Linked DNA regions of Homo sapiens: region 1 is linked to region 2. The links come from fine-mapping of genetic effects on gene expression. A gene starts in region 2. The other region holds a variant in brackets. All regions are shown on one strand. Distances are between the middles of the regions. Region 1 overlaps LOC124903701 (a long non-coding RNA gene). Region 2 holds the start of TPPP3 (tubulin polymerization promoting protein family member 3).

Region 1 (4,385 bases), 120 kb before region 2:
AGGCTAGAGTACAGTGGCATGATCTCGGCTTACTGCAACCTCTGCCTCTTGGGTTCAAGCAATTCTGCCTCAGTCTCCTGAGTAGCTGGGACTAGAGGCACATGCCACCATGCCTGGCTAATTTTTTGTATTTTTAGTAGAGACAGAGTTTCACCACGTTGGCCAGGCTGGTCTCGAACTCCTGACCTCAAGTGATCTGCCTGCCTCAGCCTCCCGAAGTGCTGGGATTACAGGTGTAAGCCACTGTGCCTGGCATATATATATATAATTATATATAATATATATAATAATATATATTATATATTATATATTAATATAATATATAATATATATAATATATATTATATATAATAAATATATAATATATAATATATATTATATATAATAAATATATAATATTATATAATTATATATTATATAATATATATTATATATATTATATAATATATATATTTTTTTTTCCTGGAGGTAGGGCCTCACAATGTTGCTCAGGCTGTTCTTGAACTCCTGACCTCAAATAATCCTCCTGCTTTGACCTCCTCAAGTGTTGGAATTACAGGTGTGAGCCACCTCACCTGGCCATCTCTGAGTGTTTATGATGCAAATCAGATAGTGTGGGGTCCAGAAACATGAATAGAAATCCCTAGATGGCCGGGCACAGTGGCTCATGCCTGTAATCCCAGCATTTTGGGAGGCCAAGGTGAGTGGATCACCTGAGGTTGGGAGTTCGAGACCAGCCTGACCAACATGGAGAAACCCAGTCTCTACTAAAAATACAAAATTAGCTGGGTGTGGTGACACACGCCTGTAATCCCAGCTACTCAGGAAGGCTGAGGTGGGAGAATCACCTGAACTCAGGAGAATAGCTTGAACCCAGAAGGCAGCGGTTGCAGTGAGCCGAGATTGCACCATTGCACTCCAGCCTGGGCAACAAGAGCAAAACTCCATCTCAAAAAAAAGAAAAAAAAAGAAAAAAAAGAAATCCCTAGATAAGAGCAGTCCCAAATCCAATTCCCCTGGTGTCTAAAGGACTTAAAACAAAAACAAAAACTTTGGCCCAGCACAGTGGCTCACGCCTGTAATCCCAGCACTGTGGGAGGCCGAGGCAGGTGGATCACCTAAGGTCAAGAGTTCAAGACCAGCCTGGCCAACATGGTGAAACCCCATCTCTACTAAAAATAACAAAAATTAGCCAGGCATGGTGGCGCTCACCTGTAATCCCACCTACTCGGGAGGCTGAGGCAGGAGAATGGCTGGAACCCGGGAGGCAGAGGTTGCAGTGAGCTGAGATCGTGCCACTGTACTCCAGCCTGGGGGGCAGAGAGAGACTCCATCTTAAAAAAAAAAAATCTTTGAGAGCTGGGCACAGTGGCTCATACCTATAATCCCAGCACTTTGGGAGGCCAAGGCAGGCGGTTCGCTTAAGGCCAGGAGTTCAAGACTAGCCCGGGCAGCATAGCAAGACCCTGTCTCTACCAAAAATCCAAAAAATTAGCTGGGCGTGATGACTCGCAACTTTAGTCCCAGCTACCCAGGAGGCTGAGGCACAAGAATAGCTTCAACCCGGGAGGCGGAGGTTTCAGTGAGCCAAGATCGCACCACTGCACTCTAGTCTGGGTGACAGAGCAAGACTCCATCTCAAAACACACACACACACACACACACACACACACACACACACACACCAAAAAAACCCCATATATATATATA[T/C]ACACACACACACATACACACACATATATACACACGCATATATATACGCATATATATACACACACATGTATATACACATATACACACATATATACACATATACACACACATATACACATATATACACACACATATATACACATATATACACACACATACACACACATATACATATATACACACATATATACATATATACACACATATATATACATATATACACATATATATACACATATATATATATATATACACACACATATACTGCACTGCACTGACTAGAGTGCAGTGGTGCGATCTCGGCTCACTGCAACCTCTGCCTCCCGGGTTCCAGCCATTCTCCTGCCTCAGCCTCCCGAGTAGGTGGGATTACAGGTGAGCGCCACCATGCCTGGCTAATTTTTGTTATTTTTAGTAGAGATGGGGTTTCACCATGTTGGCCAGGCTGGTCTTGAACTCTTGACCTTAGGTGATCCACCTGCCTCGGCCTCCCACAGTGCTGGGATTACAGGCGTGAGCCACTGTGCTGGGCCAAAGTTTTTGTTTTTGTTTTAAGTCCTTTAGACACCAGGGGAATTGGATTTGGGACTGCTCTTATCTAGGGATTTCTTTTTTTTTTTTTTTCTTTTTTTTGAGATGGAGTTTCGCTCTTGTTGCCCAGGCTGGAGTGCAATGGTGCAATCTCGGCTCACTGCAACCGCTGCCTTCTGGGTTCAAGCTATTCTCCTGATTCTCCCACCTCAGCCTTCCTGAGTAGCTGAGATATATTTGAGATATAAGTCACATACCATAAAAATTCACCCATTTTAAGTGTACAGTTCAGTGTTTTGAATATACCCATAGGGTTGTGCAGCCCTTACCACAATCTAAGTTTAGAACATTTTCATCATCCCCCAAAAAACCCTGTACTCATTAGCAGTCAGTCCTCATCCCTGGCCCTCCTCAGCCCTAGGTAATAACTAACCTACTTTCTGGCTGTCTGGATCTGAAGGACTTTTGACACACTTGGAAGGTTATACTTTTAGCCAACTTACCTTTACTTTTTCTGCATTATGCGCAGGGAAGGTGTGATGAGAAGGAAGAGTGACTTGGGCTTTGCCCTTAGGTTGTTTACAGGCCACAGTGATAAGGCCTCGTAGTTAACTAGTCGTCAACAGTTTATTTTTTTAATTTTTATTTTTTACTCTTTTTGAGACAGTCTCAGTCAGGTCACTCAGGCTGGAGTGCAATGGTATGATCTTGGCTCATAACCTCTGCCTCCCAGGTTCAAGCAATTCTCCTGCTTCAGCCTCCCAAGTAGTTGGAATTACAGGTGCCCACCACCATGCCCGGCTAATTTTTTGTATTTTTAGTAGAGACAGGGTTTTGCTATGTTGGCCAGGCTGGTCTCGAACTTCTGACCTCAGGTGATCCACCCGCCTCGGCCTCCCAAAGTGCTGGGATTACAGGCATGAGCCACTGCGCCCGGCCGTAGTCAACAGTTTAGAGTCAACAGCCCCAGCTGTCACTCACAAGTGTCATTCTGGGTGTGTTACATGCTCTCTCTGAGCCTCAGTGTCCTCATCTCTCAAATGAGATAATCATACTCACTTCATAAGGCTGCTGTCAGGATTAAATGACAAAATTTAATGGGAAGAATCTACCCAGGGCCTGGCTCAAGGTAAGGGATCATAAATGTCATTATTTGTCGGGCCGGGTGCGGTGGCTCATGGTTGTAATCCCAGCACTTTGGTAGGCCAAGGCGGGTGGATCCCTTGAGGTCAGGAGTTTGAGATCAGCCTGGCCAACATGCTGAAACTCCATCTCTACTGAAAATACAAAAACTAGCTGGGCATGGTGGTGCATGCCTGTAATCCCAGCTACTCTGGAGGCTGAGGCAGGAGAATCACTTGAGCCCAGGAGATGGAGGTTGCAGTGGTGGGGGCAGATGAACATGGTGGGTTTGACAGGGAGGCAGGCAGGTGACTTGGATGCAGGAGAGCAAGTGCGTCAAGCGCTCATCCATGGGTCCTTGCCATGTGACTGGGCAGGGTGGCCTGAGCTGAGAGAACTTGGCTGGGGTAGTCTTCGTGAAGGAGATGCTGCACCCAGGCCTCAAATGAGGAAGGATTTTGATTAGGGGAGATGGGCATGGGCCTTCAGGAAGAGGAGCCAGTGTGAGACTAGACTAGTAATCAGATTTGTTTTCCAGGCCAGTCTGGGAGGTAGATGGGAAGGCTGTGATGCCTCTAAGTGGCCTTGACTGTCATACCAAGGAGTTTGGAGTTTATTTAGGCCAAAGGCAAGAGAGGTCTGGAAGTTCTGGGGTATTTGTTGCCCTCAGTATTTGGGGTAGTACTGAAGAGGGGTGTGCAAGGTGAATGACTGTGGGTCTGTTGTCACTAGACCCAGTGAGGCCCAGAGCCCTCCCCTCCTTTTTATTTATTTATTTATTTTTGAGACAGAGTCTCGCTTTGTCACCCAGGCTGGAGTGCAGTGGTGTGATCTTGCCTCACTGGAACCCCTGCTTTCCAGGTTCATGTGATTCTCTTGCCTCAGCCTCTCAAGTAGCTGGGATTACAGGCATGTGCCACCACATCTGGCTAGTTTTTGTATTTTTAGTAGAGATGGGGTTTTGCCATGTTGGCCAAGCTAGTCTGGAACTCCCGACCTCAGGTGATCTGCCTGACTTGGCC
Region 2 (4,385 bases):
ATGCCACCCTATAGAGACCCACCTGGGTCATCTCCCAGCCAATCTGCCCTTCCCCTCCCCCAAGCCCAGAACATCCCAGCCTCTACCTCAAACCTGCAAGACCTGGGCAGGTTCTGCTACAGAGTTGGTGCTGGAGCTGCCTGGGGAGAGGGGCCCGTCACTGTCGCCCTGGGCCACAGAGCCCCAAGGAAGAGCCCCGGGAGGCACGGTCTTGTCACTAATGCCAGCCCTGGCTCTCAGCAGGGTTCAGCAGATGAAATAATGATGCCCACAGGGAACAGAGTGGCACTGTCCAGAAAGACTGTTAGGGCAGCAGCTGGGGCCCTGGCTTTGTCTGGCCCTGGCACAAGGCCTTGCTTGGGTGGAAGTGAGGGTGGCAGAGCAGGCCCCCTCCCTGGAAGCTCCATGCCAAGCTGGCTTGGGGCCAGGCCAGGCTGCTGGTCGGGCAGGCATTCAGTGAGGACAGCATCTCTGTAAGGGTCATGAGGACCCAGCAAGAGCCAGTCTGGGCACGGGTGCATGCCCTGGGCAGGGGTGCAGCTGGTCCAGCAAGGCCTTGTTACTATTTGCTGTTAAACAAAAACATGAGGGGAGCTTGGGGCTGGCCTGGCCACAGTTTGTGAAGCCTGGAGACGGTTGCTAAGGGAGGGTGGTGCTGCTTGGAGAATGTTGCTAAGGGCAGGATGGTGTCAGGGCAGCTCAGGGAGAAGCTCCCAGTGCTGAGGGGCTGGGCTGGGCTGGGAAGCTGGGGCCCACGGGTGGGGCACGCCAGCACTCCCTGCGCCTAGGGCATAACCGTGGCTTCCTGGCCCCTTGCCACCGACTGGTGCTGTAACCTCCCACTGTGGAGTTTTGGGGGAGCAGGAGGTTGGGGGCTAGTAGCGTGGGGGCTGTAGAGTTACGAACCCCAAGAGTCGTGCTGGCAAGTGGGGCTGTGGCTGAAACACACTTCATCATGTCTACACCTCAGACCTCCCCTGGCCACGCCCTGAACTTGGCCACACCAGCCCACATTCCCAGCGACCCTGTGCACTCAGCCCTGGCCTGCCACCCCCTGGGCCTTGTACCCCTGGCCATACCTTCAGCCCTCCATCCTCCATCTTCACACCCACAGCCACAGCCCTCGGCCACCAGCCCCCACATATATACTAACAAGCCTGCGCCAACCCCAGTAATACCCACAGTCCAGCACTAAAGTGCCCCCCACACCCACAGCCCTCCGCTGCAGACCCCTGGCCACACCCTGAGCCTACACAGCAGCCTTCTCCATCCCCACACCCGCAGCCCTGGGGCTGAGGCCCCTGGCCACAAACCTGCATCCCTTCCTGAGACCCCTGACCATAGCCTCAGCCACTCACCCCCTCCAATACCCGCAGCCCTTTATCAAGGCGCCCTGACCCTCAGCACCCCTTTGTCCACACACCCTCAGCCCTCTGGCCACACCCTCAGCCTGCACTGAAGGCCCCAGTCCACATCCACACACTAACATTATAAGACTCCCAGGTACTATGCGGAGATCCCCTGCGTAGAGACCTCCCCACCACATCCCCCTCCTCCACTGCCACCTCCTGACCACACCCTCGGTCTCAGCAACCATCTTCTAGCTCTGCCTTTTACACTAGGGCTTCCAGTGACCACGGCCTGGGCTCTGCCCGGCTGCCCCATCTTCCACCAAAAACTCCTCGCCAGTGACCACACTCCCATCCCTAAGTGGCAGTTTCTGGGACTGTGAGCACCGGTGGTTCCTACGTTACAGGGACCATAACCCCAGTCCACGCTGCACTCCCCTTCCCTTTCCCTGGGTGCAACCTCCCACCAGGGACCCCAAGACCCGCACTTGGTTCACCAAGGGTAACGTCCAGGGGAGCTTGGATGCCACAGGGTGCTTGGCCCAAGCACTGGGCGGATCCTGCGTGCAGTGCTCACTCCTGTCCGTGGAAAGATGGATTCTTGGTCATCTCAGCGCGGTCAGGTGGCGCTGGGTTGCAGGCCGCAGCCCCATGGGTCTGCAGGCCATGGATGGAGTGGCCACACCCGTGAACTGGAGCCACCCGTCCCGCTCCCACTGGGACAGCTGGAGTCATCAATCAGCCGGACCAGGAGGTGGGGGCTGCGAGGTGGAATGCTTGGGGCCAGGGCAGGGCCGCTCAGCTGGCTCCTCGGCTGGGACCGCCGGAGGTTGGGACCCTTTCCAGGCTGCTCCCCCCAACCCTCATCGTGCAGGATACTGATTGGGGTGGCGGGCATCTGGGTCTCCTATGGGCTTCTACCTCGCGGCTGCTCCTGAAGTGTGCGTTCGGAAGGACAGAACGACGCAGGAATGGACCGATGGACGCGGGAGACCAGGCGGCTCCGCAGCTCCGCTCCCTGCCGGCTCCCGGGTGGGACTGCAGCCCAGGCGGCTCCGCCGTATTATCCCCTGTTTCTCGGTCTCCATAGAGACGGCGAGTCCCACCCCCGAGGCTGTCTCGGCGGGAGAGTGACCAAGGTCACGCCGGCCCCGCCCACGAGGCCCCGCCCTCCCCGAGACTCTCCGGGAGCCGCATCCCGCCCCTCCCCCGCAACTCCGCGGTCCTCGCGACGGCGAGACCAGCGCTCTGCAGTTCGGGGCGTCTTCGGACGGCCCCCTGAGGAAACAGCCTCCCATCCTGGGATGTGCCTAAAGCTCTAAGCGGCCCCAATCTCCAGAAGAGATCCAGCTCCCCAGAGAGTCAACCAGAGGCCACTGGGGAGCTGCGCGGGGCATTGGTGGGGCTTGGGGAATCGGGAAGGAGCTCTCCCTCAGTGACAGGGGTATACGGTTGACTCAAGAGCACTGCCATCCACTGAACGGATGGCACCCCCAGGCCACAACTCCCGTGCTCTCTTGGGTAGGATTCAGAGCCTGGAGCAGTGGGGAAGAAGGGAGGGGACTCCCTACGAGCGAATCGCGCTCGCCCAGCCCCAGGATGCTGGCATTCGACGGCAGCCCTGCTGCCGGGGAAAAGCTGCGGGACCTCCTGGCTCGGCCCCCTCCTTTCGCCGCCACCTCCCCACGGCCTCGCAGCCTCAGCGCCCACTGCTGCTTTCGGAGCCCAAAGCCTGCTTTCTCTCGGCCTCCCAGTGCAAAGCCCATCTTTAAGAAAAATAACCTCCTCCAGGCCGCCTTCTAAGGCCTTTCCTAACCACGAGCCGCACGTGAGCACCTCCACAGGGCAGCCTGGGTGGCTACCTACTATACAGGGACCTCCTCCCCGCCCCCGGTCCACTGGCCAGGGTCGGGCTTCTGGATGGCCCGTGGCCCCTGCCATTAAGAAAGTAAGCGCGACGTCCGCAAAAGCATAAAAAAGTTTATTGGAGCATCACAGCCGGTGGGGCGGGTATTGCTGAGTCGTGGGGGAGGGAGGCCGATCCCGCCGGCCGTAGGGGCCCCTAAAGTGCACTCGGTGCGGCAAGGATGGGGTGTTGCATAGAGAGTCAGGCCGGCCGCTCTAACTCGGCCCTCCGGCCTCTCGGCCCAGCTAAGCCAGACCAGCCTCCCGGCCGCCCGGCGCCCTGGGCTCGCCGCTGCTCGGGCTCACGAAAACGGCGGGCGCACGCGCCTGCCGCGCCAGCGTGGGCTGTCGGCCCCGGCCCCGCGGGGCGGCCAGAGCGGCGCTGCCCAGGCGCGTCTGCGCCACTGGAATCTCGTCCACGGACTCTGCCGACGCCGAGTGGTAGGCGCCGGCAGGGCCAGCGGCGTGCACAGGGCTGGCGTCCGCGGAATCCGTCGACGAGCTGGAGCGGCGGCTGGGGGCCCTAGGCCCTGCGCAAGGGAAGGGAACATGAGCCCAGTGGCTGCGGCTCGCTTGTGGCTCTGCCTTCCCCTCCCTCGAGTTCCCAGAGCAGGACCCGGACAGGGAGAGGCGCTCACCCGACGCCGGATCCGAGGTCTCAGACGTTCGCACTTTATACACGCGCCTCTTCCTCTTTTTCTGCAGAGACACGGGGGAGCCTGAGGGCCCCACATCGCCAAAAGAAGCAGAGGCGAGCGCCAGGGTAGAGGCTTCTTTCTATCCCACTCCACCTGGACCGGAGGCCCAGCACAGTCCCTCCTACCTGGGGTCGGATCCGGGGAGGCAGGGCGAGAGTGTCTGGGGAAGAGGGTGGTGGAGGTTCCGCTTGGCCACGGGTGGCAAGAAACTGGGAGGGACTGAGGGGGAAGCAGGAGGGTAAGCCTGGGGCCTGTTCCCCAAATCCCTCCCCACTGGAGGTGCTGAGAGAAGCTTCCCTTCCTGTTAGCTCAGAGAAGGGCCTGACCCATGCCCCGACCTTAGCCTACCCCCTTCTCCTGCCTCGATGGCCCTGCCATGCTAACTGGAGATGCCCAGTGGCACATGCCCAGGTTGCACTCACTTGGCATTCAC

What was found. PIP is the estimated chance that this variant, and not a neighbour inherited with it, causes the effect.
Region 1: its variant is the best candidate, but not a certain one, in a credible set for the expression of TPPP3 in whole blood (INTERVAL, PIP 0.76).

Annotation. Positions count from the first base shown.
Region 1 is chr16:67,272,875-67,277,259 of GRCh38, forward strand. The region is part of intron 2 of LOC124903701 (a long non-coding RNA gene); the gene reads right to left. Among named protein-coding and RNA genes, the nearest start is that of PLEKHG4, 4.5 kb to the right of the region's middle. The variant T/C (reference allele first, on the strand shown) is at 1,711.
Region 2 is chr16:67,391,110-67,395,494 of GRCh38, forward strand. TPPP3 (tubulin polymerization promoting protein family member 3) reads right to left here and starts at 2,389. Exons shown (of 4, transcript NM_015964.4): 1 at 2,271-2,389; 2 at 1-8. The coding sequence starts at 2. ZDHHC1 (zDHHC palmitoyltransferase 1) reads right to left here. Exons shown (of 12, transcript NM_001323627.2): 9 at 4,375-4,385; 10 at 4,078-4,171; 11 at 3,893-3,953; 12 at 3,043-3,784. The coding sequence ends at 3,501.